Linked DNA regions of Homo sapiens. The protein of the gene in region 3 interacts with the protein of the main gene of each other region in a pairwise test. Each region holds a gene or a part of one and is shown on either strand. Other genes may lie near its edges.

Region 1 (7,029 bases), on a different chromosome or scaffold from region 3:
ACATTTATTCCCTACCCGCCCCTCAACACTAGTTGAGAATCACTCAATGGAGTAAATGGGAGAGAAAAATGTATGAACTAGAACCTGAAATAACTTCCTTCTAGGATCAACTTGATTTTTCAAAAGTAAAAACTCAAAATTTTATCTAATGAAGATATTCCCATTTAGTTATAAGTCTGAAACACAGTCCTAAAGCCTAACAGAGACCAGGAGAGTTTGCTGAGGCAAGGACACAAGGGGCAGCTACTCCAGAATCTGTTACCTGTGAACACCAGTCACGCTCTCTTCCACAATGCCTCGGATCTTCTTAAACACGTTTGGATACTTCTTATAAACCCAGTGGGTTAAGTCTCCCCCATCATCCAGGATCTATAGAACAGCCAGAAGACTTCTATGGGCATTCAGGCTGCTAGGGCTGGGGGGAACTTTGAACCCACTTTCTGTACTAGTAAGAGAGCCCTGTATGTTTTGGAAGAGTACTCCTCAGAGCTCCCTAGAGCAGGCTTAGAGAGTGGAAATACAGTCAAATTTGTTGGTGTAAAATGGTTAAAAGGATTCCTAGGTTTGCTTTAGGCTACAGTGATGAGTATTAAGCTAATCACAGACTCATTTTTAGTCTAGAGTCTTGAAATATATAGCCCCTTTGAATGCAAAAGGAGAACTGGGGCAGGAAGGAAAGAAAGCAGAATCCTACTCCAAAGAAGCACCACTATTTTGTTCTGGTGTGTTTGAGCCATGTGTTCAGCTAGTCTTACCCTTCCCCCACCTTTCCATTCAGTACTCAGACCCATTCTGAATAGGTATCAAGCTAAACACTTTAGCAACAAAGTCAGTGCATAAGACCAAACATCCAAAACATATTTAGGGAACCATGCTTTGAGGGAAAAAAAGGAAATAAATCTATTGTCAAAGTGTAGGATGTATATGCATTATTACCATGTTGGCCTGCCACCCATCCATGTTCACACAGCGGTCAATACACCACCAGAAGTCATCTTCTGACTCGCCCTTCCAAGCGAACACTGCAACTCCTGTAGAGACAGAAATGAATCAGCTGATTCCTCCTTTGAGGAGTGTCCTGTACCAAATCACTTTCTGAGATCCATGTGAAGAGAAAAAGGCAAAAGAAACAATTTCAGAAGGGAAAAAATTCAGAGCCAAAAGTCAAAGAATCACTTTTGGTTCAGAAATTAATTAGGTTAAGAAATTAAGGAATTTTTGCTTTAAAAGTAGTTTGGAACCTTAAAGTGTTCCTTTCTCTGGACTAATTTTATACTTAGAAGGAGATAAAATGAAGTGGGAATTAATAAAAGTTGTTAACTGGAGCATTATTGATATTAGTAAACATCTTGAAACAACCTAAATGTTCTCCATTAGGAAAATAGTGAGGTGAAATCACATAGCCATATGAATGACTATTACAAATGATGCTGTCAAAGTTTTCAGTGACATGGAAAACTACGTCTGAAAATATTGTATTTAGGTTATAAAACTGTATACATATTAGAATTTATGTAAAGTAGAAGAAAGGAAAAGGAAAAACATTAATCAAATACTCTATGTAGTGGGATTGTAGGGTTTTGGGGAACTTCCTAAATTTTTTGCAGTGAACACTTATCAGAAAAGAATAAACAAAAAAACCCAAAAGTATTATAAAGTTGCTTTCTGAGGATCTTAAAAAGATGAGAGGTCCGGCTGGGTGTGGTGTCTCACGCCTGTAATCCCAGCACTTTGGGAGGCCAAGGCAGGCAGATCACTTGAGGTCAGGAGTTCGAGACCAGCCTGGCCAACATGGTGAAACCCCATCTCTACTAAAAATACAAAAATTAGCTGGGTGTGGTGGCATGCCACTGCAATCCCAGCTACTCAGGAGGCTGAGGCATGAGAATCACTTGAACCCAGGAGGCAGGGGTTGCAGTGAGCCGAGACTGCGCCATTGCACTCCAGCCTGGGCAACAGAGTAAGACTCCATCTTAAGAAAAAAAAAAAAAGAAAGAAAGATGAGAGGTCCTCAAAGAAACTTCACGGTGATTTTCTTCTGAATATTTGAATAATAAAAATTATTATTATTGTTATTAATTTTTGAGATGGAGTTTCACTCTGTCGCCCAGGCTGCAGTGCAGTGGCATGATCTCGGCTCACTGCAGCCTCTGCCTCCCAGGTTCAAGTGGTTCTCCTACCTCAGCCTCCTGAGTAGCTGAGATTACAGGCGCACACCACCACTCCCGGCTAACTTTTGTATTTTTAGTAGAGGTGGGGTTTCACCATGTTGGCCAGACCGTTCTTGAACTCTTGGCCTCAAGTGATCTGCCCGCCTCGGCCTCCCAAAGTGCTGGGATTATAGGCGTGGGCCACCAGGCCTGGCCTGAATAATAAAAAATTATTTTACGTTTAATTAAACTCACAAATAGCTCATATATTTTCAATGCCATACTGAATACCAAATTATTTAATGCACTATCAATATGAAAGGTACTTCTTACTTGTGCTCTCTCACAAAATTGATGGCACTTATATAGTTTAACATTCTTCCTCGTTCAACTAACACTAGAACTGGGCATGACCCCATGCCATTAGATTATTTTCAAAGGCCATTTTTAATGACTACATAATATTCCACCATGGATATCCATCTTAATTTTATTATCCACTTTCTTCCTGTTGAGGTTTTTATCATGCACAATTTTATAGCCTCTAGACATATATGATATTGTAATGACAATTTTGATACAAAAAAGTTATATGTTTGGATAACTATTTTGGGGCAAAGTTGGTGGGAAAAAACCGAACTTACCAGCCTCAGCCAGTGCTGCAGCTACTTCATTCTGAGTTGAGTAGATGTTACAAGCAGACCAGCGGCACTGAGCCCCCAGGGCACAGAGTGTCTCAATCAACACCTGTGTAGAAGTGTAGGAAGACAGGGTGAGGAAGAGAAGGGCCACCCAGGAATGGAGAGCAAGCCTCATCAAGATAGCAATACCTATCAACTCTGCACCAACAGGTGCTACACTGGAAAGTTACAAAAGGGTGTACTCCAGCGAGGTGGTGCACTGGTATTTAACTTTGCATAAAACATAGGTTTCTAAAAGTCTTTATAACATTTTATAACAATCATATGTTTGCAAATCTAGACTTTCCTAGGTCAAGTTTGCTGAAAGTGGGTTTACATATTAAAAAAAAACCCAGAAAACCCCATTATTGTGTAACAGGGAGATCCTATTAATAGTTAGCATTTGGAGGTTGGCGAGTTAGGAAAGGAAAAGTGAAAAAAAAAAAATTGATTTCTTTCTTCCCCTTATCAGAAGTCCCTCTTTTCTTCCAACAAACTCACCGCTGTCTGGGCTGTGATGTGTGTACAGCCCACTATTTTAGCACCAGCCAAGGGCTTCTCCCCCTGAGCACGTTTCCTGAGTGAAATCAGAGCAGACATGTCTGTGAAAGAACAGAGGATTTGAGCTAGGTCTGCACTAGCAGTATCATCAGTTCCTGCCCCAGGGCTGGTCTGGATCTGTTGAGATATGGTGAGATGAGGCAGAAAAACTTTAAGCCTATTTCCATGACGACTGGCAGCTTCAACGGCACAGTAATAGTGGAGAGCAGTCATGCAACCACTTGGAGTTTCTCTCTTCCTCTACTGCTTCAGCTTTATACACAGAGGACTGAACAGAGAATGAAGTAAATCCTTAAAACTGATCAAAATGAAGGGTGAGTCTCATCATTCATTTGGGAAGAGAGGAAAATAGTTAAGGCATTGGCTAATAGATTCCTATATATAATCATCAGACCAGAAAGACTGTACCCTCAGCCGAAACCACTAACTTCTGTTTTTCTATGCTGTCTTACCATGTCCTGTCAGTCTGTTTGGTTTCTCTATTCTCTCTCAGTATAGAACATGCCTTCAATGTGTAAACAACACAAGAGTAAAGAGGACCTTACTGGGAGTGGCTGGGGTAGAGAAACCAAGATTTAACTGTCAGTCACTTTTACTCTGCTCCAGCAGAGGGTGCTCAGGACCAAACAAGACTCTAGGTCACCACATCCTTACCTTAAAACCCTTCCTCATCAGCTGCTTCTGGGCAATCTGGGTCTCTGCCATTGGCAGCTATAGTAAGATCCCATATAACCAACTACCACGTAGTGATCTAGGACTTGTCAATTCTGCCATGTAGATCTTTGAATACAGTGGTGGGGTGGGGCAAGGAGGAAAACAGAAACTACTCTGTGTGTAATCACCACATGCTGAGAACAGAAGGAAGAGAGAACAAAATCCCAAGACTTAAGTTCCATAGAGAGAGAAGTGTTTATCCGAAAGTCCATAATACTGTCTTTCTTCCCAGTACACTTTCAAGTCAGCTTTCAAGTCTTAAGTTGTTTGTGGATTCTGATGGCCAACAAGAGGGTTGTTTCTGGTCCCCTAACCCACTCCCTTTCTTTACCTTGCTCTGCAATCTCAATCTCCCGGCGTCCAAATTCTGCCTGCTTGATGTTCTTCACACAGAAATTGCTGCTGCCCTTGGAGTTGGTTTGCTGCTTCTCTCGGGGAGAAACCTCATCATCAGAGCTATCTGTGTAGGATGCAGCTAGAGCCAGGAAAGAAAAAAACAAGGATAGAAAAACCTCAGTGGTCCCCAACTCTACAGAGTGCAGTCCCCAAGGGACTTTCATTTAAGTTAAGGGAACACCCTTAATTGGAGCTACCTTTTACAACGCTCTCAGTTCTGCTCCTCTAGGTTCTAATAGGTGGTATGAATGAAACTGTTGTGGGTACTTCCATGTTGCAGCTCTTTCACCCACCCTAACAATACTGTGCTATTAGTGCCTATGACAAGGGACCACTGATTATAAACCTGCAGCTATAGTAATCCCAGATAATAGAGGTACTTGGTCCCATCTGGATTGGAACCAGACCTGGCAAAAACAGAAGAATAATTTAGGGCAGATAAGGAATGCTATTTCTATAGATCACTGGTTCTCAAATTCAAGCATCTATCAGGATCACATGGAAGGTTTGTTAAAACATATATTGCTAGACCCTGTGGCCAGTTTCCCATCTGGCAGGTATGGAGTGGCACCTAAGCATTAGTAGTTCCAACAAGTTACCAGGTGTTGCTGATGCTGCTAGTCAGAGGATCACACTTTGAGAACCATGGATATAGACAAAAGTGATAAGATAGTCTTACAAGGGATTTTACACTAAGTTGTGCTCAAGGAATAGAGAAAGAAAGAAATGGCACAAAAGGCAAACAGCTCTGGTTCTACTGATAGCCCTGGGAAAGTCTGTCAAAATGATCAACTTTAAAAAGTGGTTTCACATAAAAGCTAAAAATACCACTTATCTGACAGATATGCAAGAGGATATACAACAATCATTCCTTACCTCTCAAATCACTTCTTTCCTCTCTGAATTGAGTACTTTCCTCATCACGGTTTCTGCTAGTATACCTGGACTCTCTCACTGACTGACTTCTATGTACAGGTCCTCCTCCTGTCCAGCTAACACAAATACTACTAAAGATTATCTTCCCCACTATGACATTTTAACCATATCACTAAGCTTTTTAAAAGGCTCTAATACATTTCTGTAACATGGCCGTCAAGATCTTTGAAGACTTTTTAAAAGCCTTCTTCAGTCGTTTTATCGTTCTTCCTCTCATAACTCAATTTTTCACAATTAATTTTTCTTCTTTCTTGGCTACAGTTAGCCTGCTTGTCACACACCACTTTTTATCTGTCACTCCAGGATCATATATAACAGCTTTTCATTTATGTTAATCCTTAATGTTGATAATACAATGCAAAAGGTATTCTGGCAAAGGACAATGAATGGCTTTTGGTACAAATATCTCTGCTGACATTAATAGCAATCTGTAACCTCTTAATCTTTTAACAATGAGTCTTCAGTTAAACAATGACAAGGTTGTATTGGATGCCCCATTAGATGTCCCTAATGTTTTCTCCTGTATTCATCTGCCAAGATTCTATATTCTTTTCCATGCTAATTTTCTAATACATGCTCTATAGTTGGGAAAGACACAATACAAAACAGAAAAAGACTTTATTTACAGAGAGTTAAGACAGGAGGAGAGAACTAAAAAGAAACAGAGCTGGAGTTACATTACAGTAGTCTGAATCTTTCCTGCTCCAGAGTCTAACAGGGGAGGATATTCCAACAGAAAGAATAACCTAATAAATAAGAGAAGCCAAAATACTAATTTTATTGTTACAATCTAAGCAGTCTTGGAGACAAGAAAGAAAGAGATAGGTGACAGGGTATATTTTACACAAAGAAATCGTGCTTCAAAATGCACTTCTTTTTTAAGTCCAATTCTGTCAGCCAAAATAGCATTGATTTCTTCCTTTTGAAATGGGCGGATCAATGTGGGAATGGGAACTAGCCCAGTCCTACCAACTGGGCACTGGCCACAGACCACACACACAGACAGCCAGGGGGAAGAAAGTCTCGAGTCGACAAAAGCTTCCCCAGCTACTAGCTTGGCTGCAGAACATTCCCACTGCCCAGCCACTAACAGTTTTCAGCACAAAGGTGGGCAGTCATAACATGAGGTATTTTCAGATTGCTAAGTGAAGAGCACTGGTAGCAAACAGGGAAGAGAGATTAGAGAGGACATGGAGTTCATTCACACCTACCTGAACTGTAGCTGTCAGTGGAGGACTGTGAGATCGAGCGAGACAAAGATCTTCGGCCAGTTTTGGTGGGGAATTTGGTGAACTCCTGCATGTCATCAGCAAACTGGATTTGCTATACAAAAGGAAGACAAAAAGTTGAAAACTTATAAGGAAAATCCATGAAATGTTTTTTTTTTTAAGGATACATTGTCTTTCCCTAAAAGCCATGTAATCACATGGTTCCTACTAAGCCAGCAACTTTCCCACCAGAAATGGGGGAAGGCCGAGGCTACTCTCTGACTTCTCCCAACACGTCAATCACTGTCTCTTCCCAATTGTTTCTGCAGGATTTGGGAGGAGGGGCTAAGGTTAAGAACCAATTTCGTTTAGTATATGTTCAAT
Region 2 (7,341 bases), on a different chromosome or scaffold from region 3:
GGACACTATCGAGGATCTTGATGAATCTGGCATGGGTAGATAGACTGCAGCTAAAGAGTTTAGCATACCTGTAACACCCCCAACTCCCCAACATAAAGGGACAGGAAAAGGCAGGACCTGGGGGCTTCTCTGACCCTTGAACAGCTTATACTATGAGACCTTGGGAACCTCCTCCATGCAGACACACAAGGCTCAATGTTGGGGGAAGGGAAGGGCCCATAGGTCCAGGACCACAGCCACCTCTGCAGGAGGACAGCTCTGCGGTACAGTACTTCAGGGTCGGTGCCTTCTAGGCGTGGATATCGCACCAGACTAGTTGGCTGGAACAGGTCTGCATTCAACCCTAGTTCCCGCTGTCTAGATGACTTGATCTTGACCCCTCGGAGACGAACATCAATCCCATCATCTGGGGGAAGGGGTCAGAGTAAGGTCATTTACAGCACCTGCTGCCTCCTTGGCCCTCAGACCTGGGACCGGCTCCTTGAACGCTCAGCCTTGTGTCACCGTTAGCCCCTAGAAACTCGGGACCTTCGGGATCACCTTCTATCACCTGATTCTGATTGATCTATTCCTGCTGATTCCTCTGTCTTCCACTAGAATGCTGGGATGCCTGAGGGTCCCAACTCAGTTCCTCTTCCAGGTGAGCCCAACCACCTGTATGGCTTTAAGGCAGGCCTATACCTGGCATGTCCCAGCTGGCTCAGGCCCCAAAGCTCCAAATCCTGGAGTTAGTTCAGCATCGCCTTCACCCCAACTCCAAGCCCATCCTCTTCTCTCCACACACACTCTCTGTTTGCCCCCATCTCCACGCCGGGCTCTCTTTCCCTCCTTATAGCCTTAAACCTCACCTCGGCACTCCACGATGCGGATCTCGATGATCGGGAGGTGGACGGTCATGTCCTCCAGGACACAGACATCCCCGATGAGGGTCCTGAGGAGATGAGTGTGAAGCACTTCAGATACCTCCTGCCTCAGGCCTTCAGAGACTGCTGGAGTCTCACTCAAACTTAGGCTTTCAAGCTGGGCTAGGCTTGGAACATGCCCTACTTCCCTCCCCAGGCCAGCGTGCTCACTCGTCAATGCTCACGTCACTCAGCTTCTTCAGGTTGTCCCCTTCACCCCCATAGACCACCACCCGCTTTGGCATAAAGTTGTCATCTGTGGTATCCACTGTGAGTAGCAGCTTCCTGAAGGGTCAGAGTGTGAATATGAGTCTTTGTGAACCCACAGGGACATAGCCCACCCACCCTGTCCTGCCCAGAGCCTACTTACTTGACAATGGTGCCCTTCTTCATAGTAAGCCGTACCCAGTGTTGGCACTGGGACCCATCGCTCTCCCAGTAGGTATCGGCATTGCTGTCTGTCAGGCAGGACACGTTGAACTCCTCCTGGGGAGGGGCAGAGACGTGAAGTCAGCAGTTACCCTCCCTCCCTGCACTGGGCTTGTGCTCTGGGCCAGGAGCACCAGAGAGAAAGCATAGTGAAGTTGGGCTAACAGGCAACTGGTATGGGATAGGGGGCCGCTGGGTATGTAAGGGGTCCTATAGACGTCCAAGATGGGGAGCTGAACTGAGTGTGGCCTGTGGGGACCCTGTTTTAGTCCTGGCCTGCAGGTGGGGGTTCTTTCTGGATCTAGCCTTGAGGGGTGTGACTATATCTTGCCTGGGGTGGGAGGAGCCCCAGCACCCACCGTGTAGGAGGAAACGTCTATGCTCTCCACATACTGCTTCACGCTACCCAGGTTCTCATCCTCCTTGCCCAGGTGGTCATACAAGAAGTGGATCAGGTCCTCGTCGCACTCGTAGGTCCATGTCGGGGGTACATAGCTAAGCAACCCCAAGCCCCTAATTAGACTGGGCCCAGACGCAGAGCTCCTTCCTCCCCACCCCATTCCAGCTCACTCACAGTAGCCTTTGTACAGCTTCTGCGTATGCCTCTGCCGGCTGAGGTCTCGATCCCAGGCGATGTGAGTATGTCAGGTCCACCACCTGTTCCCACCTGTGGGCACAGAGTAGGGAGTGGGATGGGGAGACATCAGCGGTCAGCAAGACACTACCTCCATGCCGTGTAGCCTTCTTCAGGGCTCTATCTCCCAGTCTCCCTCCGAGCCCCCTTCACGTCCCGCCCCTTTCTGCTCTTAACCCTGCCTCCGCTCCAGTATCCCACCCACCCCAGGCTGTGGCTGAAGTGTTCCCAAGCCCTCCTGGCCCGGCCTTCTGACAGCCAGCCCCGCTCCTTCAAGTGCAGTACCTGAGCACCGGCCGATAATCCACGCCAAAGAGCTGCTGCTGCCGCTGGAGGTGGTTGGGAGTGTCGATGGGTACCAGGCGGGCTCCGCCCTCCGCCGGGCGGCACACCAGCAGCCAGCCTTCCTGCAGCCCGCAGTCGCCCAGGTGCTCTGCCAGCTGCTCCTGCCGGGACGCGTAGGATGGGGACAGCCGTCAGGGAACTGCCCAGCCGCCTGTCGTGCCCAGCCCAGGGCAAAGGGCGCCGAACGCAATGCCAACTCAATACAGGGGAGAAAAGGCAAACAGCCAGAGGTTTCTCTGGCCCCAGGGGTCTTTTACCGGGTCCTGGGCAGGGAAGAGCGCACCTTTGTCAGCTTCACCCAGAGCCCGTGGCCATTGCACAGCTCCTCGCCCGTGGTGCGCACGCAGGCGCCGCGCCGGAGCTCAATGCTGTCGCGGGCGGCGCGGAGGGGCCCGGAGCCGGTACCGGGGGCTGGGCCTGCGGCGCCCACACGCAGCCCCAGGCCCTCTGCCTCCCACACCGGCAGAAGCACGCGCGACGGTCCCGCTGGGTCCTTGTAAAGCTTGTAGAGCACCTCTCGCGGCACGAAAGCCAGCGCTGCTGGCAGCGGCCGCCCGGCGCGGAGGCTCCGCGCTGCCTCTGCCAAGAAGCGCACGCGGCCCAGCAGCTGCCGGGGGGACTCCAGCACCGCGCCCGGGCCAGGACCCGCCATGGCGAAGTGGCGGAGGTGAGCACCTAGAGGCGACCCTGCCCGGGGAACAGCTGGCGCGACCGCGGACAGAGCTTCCCACCACGCCCTTCCCCGCCTTTGGCCAGCCTTTGCCGTATGTTCTGGACTAAGCGCACCCCAGCTCTCACTGTATTGGACTGTGTACTCCCACACTCAACCATATTACTTATCTCTGTGCCACCCTAACCCAGCCGACCAAACCCAAGATTGGTGATTGCTACCTGATCAATCTCCCTCTCTCCATTTCCTTGTGACTACCATTTTATCTCTACTGCTACTACCCTCATTCAAGTCACCATTCTAGCTAGCCTGGGTCATTGCCAACAGTCATTTTTCTGGTTCTTCGGCCTGCTGTTTTTCCTCCCACTCCCAGCGAATCTGCTGGACTCCCTATCCTATGGGTGGTGTGATTAAAGTGTTTGAGACAATGGCCCCTTCCCCTGCCACTGACAGGAGTCTTGAGTCATTAGGGTTGATTCTGTTTGTCACTCCTAATCCCAAGGACACTGGAGATCATTATTCATTTTAATGTGATTGCTGATTTCTGTTTCCCCAGTCTTGTAGCTCCTTAAAGGCTGGGGCTGTCTTGAGCAGAGCTAACCTCTGCACCTACTATAGGTCCAGGCTATAGTATGGACCTGGCTGGATAAGACTGTTGGTATCATGAGTGGGACTTGCGCCAAGCCTCCGGATACCCAGACTGTCAGATGAGAACAAATTCCTCATGTCACCGTAAGATACATTTACAGCGGAGTTTTCTTTTGGGCCTTTGTTGTTGCGTCGCTACAGCAAACTTTACGGTGAAAAAAGGTAGGGGTCCTACGGGCAGCAGCCAGGGCAGCCCTGGAGCTGTCGCTGGAGTCCGATCATGTGATCTTCAACATGGCGACGCTCTTGGTTCCCTACAGAAAGGGGCGGAGCCTGGACTGGGGGGCAGGCTCAGATTCAGGTTAAATTGTGGATTGAGCTCGCAGTTACAGACAGCTGACCATGGAAGCGAATGGGTTGGGGTGAGTTCTCCAGAGCACGCGGTGTGGCTAGCCGGGCTTCTAATTTGAGTCTTCCAACTCAGGACTCTATCCCTCTACTCCCCTTTCCCCACCCTGGAGACCTCCCAACCTGAACTCCGTTAGCTGGGATCCTGAATCCTAAAACCATGGATTTTTGAGATGTTCATCCCAGGGCCTTAATTCAAGGGATGCCTCAGGATTTCCAACCAGGATCTCTATTCTGGGACCATCAACTCTGATCCCTCTTTATCCCCCAGCCTGGGTATTTCTCAGCCCCTGAACCAGCCCAGTGACATTCCCGTTTCTGAGGCTCACTAGTTCGAAGACCCCCAAACTATCCTTAGTGGGCCTTCATTCCCTCCCCCCAGTCCCTCTGGTTGCTTCGAGCTTGGAAGAGTAGAGACTAAGTGGAGGGAAGAGGCCCCAGGGCGGGCCCTTCTGGAGTTTGTGCACCACCTGATAGGCAGAGAGGAGGCGGAACGGGCGGAAAGCCAGGGTTTGGGAGCTGGCCTGGAGGAGGTAGATAGCGGTCCTGGACTGAATCGGCCTTATGAACCCGCGCTTTCCCCAGCCTCCAGCGTAGCATACTGACACCTACCCCCACCCCCACCTGATCGCCAGACCTCAGGGTTTTCCGGAGCTGAAGAATGACACATTCCTGCGAGCAGCCTGGGGAGAGGAAACAGACTACACTCCCGTTTGGTGCATGCGCCAGGCAGGCCGTTACTTACCAGGTAAGAGTCAGGGTCTGGAAATCTAGATAAAACTCCGGAGGGAGAAAAGTTTTCGAGGGGCAGGGGAGGGCTCTGGAGGGCCTCAAGGCTGAGCCCTGTCTTCCCTCTGTATGCAGAGTTTAGGGAAACCCGGGCTGCCCAGGACTTTTTCAGCACGTGTCGCTCTCCTGAGGCCTGCTGTGAACTGACTCTGCAGGTGAGGGGTCCACAAAAGAGGGAAAGATTTATGCCTTCAGTCTGCCACCTAGCAACCTGTCTCCTGTTTCCTACAGCCACTGCGTCGCTTCCCTCTGGATGCTGCCATCATTTTCTCCGACATCCTTGTTGTACCCCAGGTACCCACTCAAACCTGATCCTAGAATATAATCCAAGGACGCCTTGAAAATCCTTCTATCAGTCCAGTCAAGGTTTACAATAAGCACTTATCCTAACTGGATCGAGGGAAAAACTAAGGTTGAAAGAAATGGAGTTTGGCAGAGTTTTATTCTCCTTTTCCTTCCTCCTGGAATGAGCTGAACAGAACCTTTCCTCCTGGATTCCATTTTGGGAACCCAGATGTTTTCTCCCCCTCCAGGCACTGGGCATGGAGGTGACCATGGTACCTGGCAAAGGACCCAGCTTCCCAGAGCCATTAAGAGAAGAGCAGGACCTAGAACGCCTACGGGATCCAGAAGTGGTAGCCTCTGAGCTAGGCTATGTGTTCCAAGCCATCACCCTTACCCGACAACGACTGGCTGGACGTGTGCCGCTGATTGGCTTTGCTGGTGCCCCAGTAATGTGGGACAGGGCAGGGACTCGGGGCGCGGGGAGATCACTCTGGAAGGTCTGGGGTAGACAAAAGGAAGGGTCAGTCTGGCTTCTGTGACACCATCTTTCTATCCTTCTCTAGTGGACCCTGATGACATACATGGTTGAGGGTGGTGGCTCAAGCACCATGGCTCAGGCCAAGCGCTGGCTCTATCAGAGACCTCAGGCTAGTCACCAGCTGCTTCGCATCCTCACTGATGCTCTGGTCCCATATCTGGTAGGACAAGTGGTGGCTGGTGCCCAGGTGAGTCCTGAGAGAGAGAGAAATAGGCTGGGATTTGGTCTGTAAGGACCAGAAGCAAGAGTGTCCTAAACCTGAGAGGGCAGGGGTCTTAATGCCAGGGATGAAAGAACCTTGGCCTCCAGTGATCTAGCGGAGCAGCCAAGCCCATCCTGACACTGACAGTGGGGCTTAATGCTCTAAGTATTCAGACACCAAAGTTAGTGCTGGGATCTGAGGAAAGTAAATTTTTTTTTTTTTAATTACTGGGTTTTTAGGGTCAGGCAGTATCAGGGATTGAAGTCATTTGGGGAAAATTGAGGTGGATTTTGTATGTGGGGGAAACTTCCTCTTTGTGTGTTACATATTTTTCTTCACCATACCCTAACTAGGCATTGCAGCTGTTTGAGTCCCATGCAGGGCATCTTGGCCCACAGCTCTTCAACAAGTTTGCACTGCCTTACATCCGTGATGTGGCCAAGCAAGTGAAGGCCAGGTTGCGGGAGGCAGGCCTGGCACCAGTGCCCATGGTGAGGATTGGGATGGGTTGAGTGAAGGTGGTCCTGTGGAGCTTTCAGGCTAAGTCCTGCATGGACTGGAGTGACCACTGGAGGGCAGCAGAAGTACAGTCAAGAAAGATTAGTGGTTGTAGCAAGGCCCTCTGTAGCCTGAGATCTGCTTTTTTCTAGATCATCTTTGCTAAGGATGGGCATTTTGCCCTGGAGGAGCTGGCCCAAGCTGGCTATGAGGTGGTTGGGCTTGACTGGACAGTGGCCCCAAAGAAAGCCCGGTAAGCCATGGAAGGGTGAGGCCTTGAGGTTGAGGTGGGGGTGTTGGCTGGGGGAGCTGCCATGTATGCAGTTACCAGAACGTGGCGCTGGCTTTGCTTCCAGGGAGTGTGTGGGGAAGACGGTGACATTGCAGGGCAACCTGGACCCCTGTGCCTTGTATGCATCTGAGGTAACAGCCAGGGCCCCTCTGTGTGTCTGTTACTGTGCACTCCTGTGGCTGTGGCTGTATTATTCTGTGTGCACTTGTTTTTAATGTCTGTCTGTCCTTTTCTTCTACTCTGTACAACATAAGCCCTAGAAAGACCGGACTTTTTGTTGCTGTTGTTCATTTGTGTTTATGCTTCATGCCTGGGTCCATACTAGGGATCTGATAAATTTTATTGAATGACTGAATAACACTGAGTAGAAGCATGCCTACATATGCGTTTGTCACTAGTATATATAGGGAGGACAAAGGCTTGCTGGTCCTCCTGTAGCCAGTGCCCTGTTGGTCCCCCAGGAGGAGATCGGGCAGTTGGTGAAGCAGATGCTGGATGACTTTGGACCACATCGCTACATTGCCAACCTGGGCCATGGGCTTTATCCTGACATGGACCCAGAACATGTGGGCGCCTTTGTGGATGCTGTGCATAAACACTCACGTCTGCTTCGACAGAACTGAGTGTATACCTTTACCCTCAAGTACCACTAACACAGATGATTGATCGTTTCCAGGACAATAAAAGTTTCGGAGTTGAACTATTGTGTAGTTTTGTTTGTGAAAGATTGTGCCCATATCCTCAGTTCTTCTTAGCCTCTG
Region 3 (7,029 bases):
GCACCTTCTCCTGCACCACCACTTTGGCGTTCTCCTCCTCCAAGGCCCATATCTTTCGGAGCAGCTCCGTCTTCTCCCTCTGGCTAGCGCGAGCCTTGGCAGCCTCGTCCTCATATTGGCGGGTGAGATCGCTGACCTCCCTCTCGGTGGCCGCGTCCTTCTCCACCTTGAGCACCTCCTTGACGGTGATCTTGCCCTCGGCCATGGCCCGCTCCTTCTCTAGCCTCTTGAGCTTGTCCTGGAGGAAGCTCAGCTCCTCCTCCTGCTTCTCCCTGAGCTGGTCCTGGCGCTGGTGGTCCTCCTGCAGCTGCTGGTACTCTGCCTCCAGCTGGGGGTCATTCTGCAGTTTCACCACCTCTTTCTCTGTGACCTTCTCCTGCGCCCGGCTCTTCTCTTCAGCCAGGGCGGCCACACGCTGCTGCAGGAGGAGCACCTCTGCCTCCCGGGCGCCCTTCTGCCGCCTCAGTGCCTCCAGCTCCTCCCGCAGCTGCAAGACCTCATCCGCCTGGGCCCTGTCAGGCTCGATGCGCAGGACCTCCTTGACCACGTACTCCTGCCCCCCGTCTCTGGTCTCCTGCTCCAGGGCACGCAGCTGCAGCTGCAGTGCCTCCAGCTCCTCCTGCAGCAGCTGGTTCTTGTGCTGCTCCTCTGCCAGCGTCCGCTGCAGCTGCTGGAAGCTCTCCTCCAGCACGGGATCCGGCACCTTCTTGAGCACCTCCTTCCTCACCACCGATTCCTGAGGCCCCTGATTCCTCAAGGTCCAGATTTCTTCCTGGGTGCTCTTGACCTCGTTCTCCAGCTGCCGCCTCCGCTCAGTCTCCTCATCCAGTTCCTTCCTGATCTTCCACGCCTCCTCCACTCCAGAGTCCGGCCTATTCCTTTGCAGGGTCTCATGGGTCACTTCTACTTCCGGCTGCTGTGATGGAGAAGACAAGACAAGGTTAAAGCCAGGCTCTGGCAGCACATGTAGGGCCTGTCCCCACCTGGTCAGAGTGGCTGTCCTGTGGTCCCCAAGGGACTCCCTCAGTGCCAGTTCATGTTAGTTGTAGAGTTCTAGGGTTACTTTCAAAAAGGATCAAACAACTAGTTTGGGGTTTTTTTTAATCAGGTAAAACATTTTTGAGCTGTGGAAGAGTTTAAAATGAAACCACGGTCTCCCACCTCTGGTCCCCGTCCTAGGGCGTGTCTGTCAGCCTTGCAGATGCTATCTGTGCTCACACAAGAATATCTGTCTGTAGTATGTACCATGTGTTTATCTCTCCTGCACAAATGGTATTCCTGCTGCTCACTGCACTTACAGAGCTCATTCCAGCTCAGCACAGAGAGTGCTGCTTCAGGATTTACCAGCAGCATTGTTTCCGCTCTCTGGACAGACCGCAGTTTAGCCCATTGCTGATGAAGAGTGAACTGCTTCCAGTGTCTTGCTATTAAAAAACAATGCTGTCATCAACATCATGGACTTCAGAAAATAACATTCACTTTCTTTTGTTTCTTTCTTTTTTTCTGAGACAGAGTCTCGCTCTGTTGCCCAGGCTGGAGTGCAGTGGCACAGTCTCAGCTCCCTGCAACCTCCACCTCCTGGGTTCAAGCAATTCTCCTGCCTCAGTCTCCTGAGTAGCTGGGATTACAAGCATGCGCCACGACGCCCAGCTAATTTTTGTATTTTTAGTAGAGACGGAGTTTTACCATGTTGGCCAGGCTGGTCTCGAACTCCTGACCTCAGGTGATCCGCCTGCCTCGGCCTCCCAAAGTGCTGGGATTACAAGCGTGAGCCACCATGCCCAGCTGAAAATAGCATTCACTTTCAGCAGATGTTTACTGAGTTGAATAAGTTCTCATGTCAGTAGAAGCATTGGCTCGGGCCAGTCTTTGCATTGGCCCTGCCCAGAAACGTTAGCAAGGGGACACTTCCATCAATTCACAAACCATTTCTCTAAGACAGAGTCTGTATTTGTCACCTGTTAGAACAGCCTGAAGTAGAATTTCTTACTAAGATCAGTTACCTGTCTGAGGAGATTCAGAGCAAACTCCAGATTCTGCAGCCTCTGTCTGTTGATGGCATAAACTTCAGTGAACTTGGCGGCAAGTGCTGCTTCCTGCAGAGAAGAGGATTAGGAGAGCGGTCAACAAACAGGTGTCAACAGGGTAAGCAACAGAGAGCTAGACAGCGTGGACGTGGTTCTTGAGAAGTGTGGAATTTGGGGGTAGAGGCATAGCTCTTGCCCACTCCTGCCTGGAGTTAGACTGTAGCCTCACCGGTGGAGAGAAAAATGGATCTCGAGGCAGAAGATCCAGGCCAGGGTCTTGGCCACACTGACTTTGAGCAAGTCTTTCTGCCTCTTAGAGCACCAGTGTTCTCTCTTGTGTGTACAGGAGACTAATATCAGCCCTCCACTGTACTTACTGAGGTGAGCAAAACAGGAACTTCCCAGATCCATGGTTCTGACCCTGACACTTCTGTTCAGCTGCATTTTCAAAAATTTTTATTTCTTAAAGACAGAATCTCTTTCACTCAGACTGAAGTGCCATGGTGTGATTGTAGCTCACTGCAGCCTTGAACTCCTGGGCCCAAGTGATCCTCCCTCCTCAACCTCCCAAGTAGCTGGGACTACAGGTTTGCACCACCACGCCTGGCTAATATTTTTGTAGATATGGGGTCCTGCTTTGTTGCCCAGGCTGGTCTCCAACCCCTGGGCTCAAGCAGTTCTCCCACCTCGGCCTCCCAAAGTGCTAGGATTACAGGTGTGAGCCACTGCGCCCGGCCTTGCTGTCTTTCTAGGCATATTGATGTCACTGCCCTAGAACAAGTTCCTCATCTCTTACCAAACCTGTTTGCATGCAGGAGGGCTCTCAGTGGCTTCCCTGTTGTGTGTGCATCTCTGAGGCCAGCGTGTGACACCATGCTCCCTGGGGAGCAGGGCAGCTTGGCCTCCACCTCAGTCCCGAGGCCGCCTGGCCCATGGAACTCACCTCTTCCTTCACTTTGGTGGCAGGAGATTGGAGCCTGGCTCTCTTGCTCACGTGGCTTCTCCTTCCATTCTCCAAGTCGAGAAGAGACCTTAGTTTTTCTGCTTCTAACTCATAGTCCTGCATGAGGGAGAGACATGGCAGAGGGGAGATTAAAACAGCTGAGAAGAGACAGACATGTTCCTGTACCCCTTCAGGCTGACCCAGACCTGCCCTGTGCCATGTGCTGGTTTTATAATCTGCGTGGGTCTTCCTCACAGCTGCACCCTGCAGTGATTTCCAGGAGGTTTTGAGAATTACTGATATCTCAGCAGTACATAGCTCCATCACTCAGTAACATATGAGACAAGAAGTGCCCCCTGAATTCCCCTCCCAGCCTTTCTACATGCCTAGAGATTTTCACATTCTGCTGCTGCTTTTAACATCGTACCATAACCCTGTCTCACCTTGCCACCACCTCTTCTCATGTTTACCAGCTTGCTGACTTTATAATCCATCAGGTGGATGTGTGCTGATTCACGCAGCTTTCCCCTTCCACTGGACACCAGTCCTTTCCAGCGTACTAGTTTTGCTATTGTAAATAGTGCTGTTGCAACAATGTTGTTTATCCTGCATTTTTTTTTTTGTACTTTTTCCTTAAGGATAAATTCCCCCAAAGTGTTTACTGCTTCAGAGTATAAAACCCTTTTACAGCATTCCATGTCTAGTACCATGCTGTTTTCCCAAAAGCCTGTGCCAGTTTGCACAGCAGCCGGCAGTGCCTCGGATGGCCAGCTCCACCCCCATGTGCCAGGGCCGGTGCTTGCTGCTTCTCTGACCAGGGCACGGTGGAATAAGACCCCTGCTGTTTGTGCTTTGGGCGGAAGTTTCCCGGCTCACCTTTACAGCTTGCTGGTACTGCTGGGAATTGGCACAGATCTTCTGTACTTCCTGCTCCCTACTTGCTATCTCATCTAGCAGGTTCTGTAAGACAGAGTTTAAAAATCAAAACTAACCAGAAAAAAAATTTAAAAAAGCAACCATGGATGCAGTAGCTGGAAATCTCAGAATCTGAATTTATTCTTCTCTAGCACAAAGTATGATGAATGGCTCCCTTGTATACATTTTTATTCATTGCAAAAGGCAGTTTTTTTGTTGTTGTTGTTTTTTTTTTTTTTTTTTTTTTTTTTTTTTTTTGAGACAGTCTCACTGCATCGCCCAGGCTGGAGTACAGTGGCGCGATCTCAGCTCACTGCAGCCTTAGCCTCCTGGGTTCAAGCAATTCTCCTGCCTCAGCCTCCCAAGTAGCTGGGACTACAGGCTCCTGCCACCATACCCAGCTAATTTTTTTTTGTATTTTTAGTAGAGATTTGGTTTCATTATGTTGGCCAGGCTGGTCTTGAACTCCTGAACTTGTGATCCTCCTGCCTCAGCCTCCCAAAATGCCGGGATTACAGGTGTGAGCCACCGCGCCCAGCCACAAAAGGCAGTTCTAAGGCTCTGTGAAGAAGGGCCAAGATCATTATCTCTGCTAGGAAACAAATGTTTACTGATGATTTGGACCACCAGACACTGTTCTGCTGTCTGACTTAGATTATCTCATTTAATCTTCAAACGATGCCAGGAGGTAAGCATCGTGACCTCCAGCTTATGAGTGAGGAAAGCTTCTGAGGTGGGGATGTGGCTGATGGGGTGGACCCGGGATTTGCATCTCAGCCATTGGCTTCCCGTGTTCCTCCCTCACCCCAAGGCACTGCGTTGGGCATGGGGGAGGCAGGAGTCCCAACTTTGAAAATGGGATTTCCCCCACAAAGGCGGCTCCTCATTCTGTAGCTGTTCACTCACATAGCCAACCCACGCCAAGTGTCCATTCTGCACCAGGCCCTGTGCGGGGCACTGAGCTGGGAGAGGTGAGCGACACACTCGGTTCTTGTTCTCAGAGGGTTGGGTGTTGGGAGCTTGAGCTGAGGCCCAGGGAGGACACAGCTGTGGCAGGCCTCTGCCCTGCTCCACCTCCCAAAGGCTTGGCTCCCCAGAAAGGGGCTTGTTGACCTCTGACCCTCCCTTGCCAGTGTGTGCCTGGGGCTGCGGAAACGGCCATCTCACCTTCTGGTTCTTCAGCTTGGTCTCCATCTGGCTGAGGCTGTCTGTCTCCTGGGGCTCGTAACTGGGGATGCTGACTAGGAACTGCAGCACGTGGTCATGGCCGCGGTGGAAGTGCTCGTAGGCTGCCTTGGCGCTCTGTAGGCTCTGCGCCCTGTCAAGGCAAAGCGTTCAGGCCTCAGCCACAGCAAACAGATGCCTCACCGAGCCCTCATTTTTTTTTTTAAAGTGGGAAACAACCAAATGTAACAACCAGAAATACCCCAAGTATCTCCCACACAGGGTGGGTGGTCATTAGGGAACGTCAGGTTGGACTGTGGAGAACCAGGTGGGTCCATATACATTGACTTGCAGAGATGCCCATTGTGGATTACAGGACCCAGGTAAGCATGACTCAAAAGAGAGACCACAGGGCCGTCAGAGAATCTGACGAACTCACCAAAAAGAAAAACAGCAAAATCTGTGGGACACGGCTAAAGCATTGCTTAGAGGGAATTAGATCGCATTCTCAGAAAACAAAAATGGCCACCACCCACCGCACCCTCACCTGCGTTCCACCTGCTGGCGCAGGTTGTTGAAACGCTGGCCCAGCTTGTGCACCTCGGCCTCCTGGCGCTCCAGGTCCGGACAGTGCTCCTGGAAGCGGCTGGCCAGTGTGCTCGAGCACTGCTTGGCCGCCTGCAAGTTCTGCTCCACCTCACCCAGGAGGGACTTCTGGGCCTGTAACTCACAGGCCATGGCCTGGCGGGGCAGAGGAGGAGACGGCGGTGCTACGGCCAGAGCTCCCAGAGCCAGGCGATGACACCCACTGAAGCCCCTGGGCCACTGACTGTAGGAGGGTGGGCAAGGCCACAGGTAGGAAGGACCGGAGCCTTGCTCTGTACATCCCAAACCTGGGTCACTTCTGCCATCTTCTGTTTTTTAACAATGAACAAAGCCCTGAAAAGCTAACTTCTAAAAACCCTGCAGCAGGCAGCTCGTGCCCTGCGCGAGAACAGCCTGCCACTGTCTGGTCATGAGGCTGTGGCAAAAGCAAGTCGTGAGATGGGAGTGTGAATAAGGGGCCTCAGGTCACAGACTTGAATGTTTCCTGTGCTCAGGCAGTGTGGGAAGGGGGCCCGTGGCAACTGCGAGGTAAGCAGGCCGAGAAGGCAGCTGCTCCTCTGCCCACTGACTTGCCCTCTGAGCTGCAGCCCAGGATGCCAGCTCTGCTCAGCAAGAGATACTGGGAACATGGATTGTTATGTGCTTTATGCTTTTTTTTTTTTTTTTTTTTTTTTAAGAGATAGGGTCTTGCAACGTTGTCCAGGCGGCTGGACTTAAACTCCAAGGCTCAAGCAATCCTGCCCCAGCCTCCTGAATGGCTGGTGTTACAGGCATGTGCCACTACACTGGCTATTGCAGATATTTGATCTTAAAATGCTGGCACCCGAAATCCCGTAAGTCACACAGATCCCGTGAATAGCTTGGATTTGTGCTGTGGGCCTCCATTTGCAGTTCCCAATTTGGGCATTCCAAACCTGGGGAGACTGGATGCTGGTGTCCTCATCTATCCAGACGGGCGGGTGGATGTGCCAGATGCTCTCACCTGCTCAGAGAAGGACTCCCAGGACTTGGGCCCTAGACTCACCGCCAGCTCCTGCCCCTTGCTGTCCAGGACACGGCTGCTCTCAGGCACTGTGTCATCCTGATTCAGATGGTTCTCGTGTGTGGCCAGCAACTCCCAGCTCTGCTGCAGGCTCTTCTCCAGGCGGTTGGCCACATCAACCCTGAGAGCACCAATCAGGCGTCGGGGGATGCCCACCTGGCCCCCTGACCCCACCCCAACCTCCATGCTGCCTGTCTGCCACCCACTTCTCCTGGGCCAAGTCCAGCAGCTGCAGGAGGTGCTCGTATTTCCGGTTGGTGTCCTCCACCCGGGTCCTCAGCAGGGGTGTGGTGCCACTGCCTGGGAGGGCCTGGATGAAGGCTTCGCCCTCA

What was found.
Region 1: the proteins of PPL (region 3) and AHCYL1 interact in binary tests that used the Homo sapiens proteins (3 or more experiments, as listed by UniProt).
Region 2: the proteins of PPL (region 3) and HECTD3 interact in binary tests that used the Homo sapiens proteins (3 or more experiments, as listed by UniProt).

The regions. Positions count from the first base shown.
Region 1 is NC_000001.11:110,008,765-110,015,793, reverse strand, and holds part of AHCYL1 (S-adenosylhomocysteine hydrolase-like protein 1), read right to left. Parts: intron 6,761-7,029; coding exon 6,649-6,760; intron 4,581-6,648; coding exon 4,437-4,580; intron 3,433-4,436; coding exon 3,332-3,432; intron 2,898-3,331; coding exon 2,795-2,897; intron 1,032-2,794; coding exon 937-1,031; intron 370-936; coding exon 263-369; intron 1-262. UniProt on the Homo sapiens protein: Multifaceted cellular regulator which coordinates several essential cellular functions including regulation of epithelial HCO3(-) and fluid secretion, mRNA processing and DNA replication.
Region 2 is NC_000001.11:45,008,296-45,015,636, forward strand, and holds the start of HECTD3 (E3 ubiquitin-protein ligase HECTD3), read right to left. Parts: upstream 3,030-7,341; 5' UTR 2,963-3,029; coding exon 2,594-2,962; intron 2,412-2,593; coding exon 2,251-2,411; intron 1,999-2,250; coding exon 1,906-1,998; intron 1,827-1,905; coding exon 1,691-1,826; intron 1,389-1,690; coding exon 1,273-1,388; intron 1,188-1,272; coding exon 1,074-1,187; intron 932-1,073; coding exon 849-931; intron 407-848; coding exon 241-406; intron 27-240; coding exon 1-26. Other genes in the region: UROD (uroporphyrinogen decarboxylase), read left to right, coding at 3,971-3,990, 4,612-4,724, 4,841-4,920, 4,997-5,059, 5,299-5,496, 5,614-5,775, 6,144-6,281, 6,441-6,541 and 2 more. UniProt on the Homo sapiens protein: E3 ubiquitin ligases accepts ubiquitin from an E2 ubiquitin-conjugating enzyme in the form of a thioester and then directly transfers the ubiquitin to targeted substrates.
Region 3 is NC_000016.10:4,885,132-4,892,160, forward strand, and holds part of PPL (periplakin), read right to left. Parts: coding exon 6,904-7,029; intron 6,819-6,903; coding exon 6,680-6,818; intron 5,791-6,679; coding exon 5,597-5,790; intron 5,204-5,596; coding exon 5,053-5,203; intron 3,931-5,052; coding exon 3,847-3,930; intron 3,088-3,846; coding exon 2,971-3,087; intron 2,097-2,970; coding exon 2,004-2,096; intron 917-2,003; coding exon 1-916. UniProt on the Homo sapiens protein: Component of the cornified envelope of keratinocytes. May link the cornified envelope to desmosomes and intermediate filaments. May act as a localization signal in PKB/AKT-mediated signaling.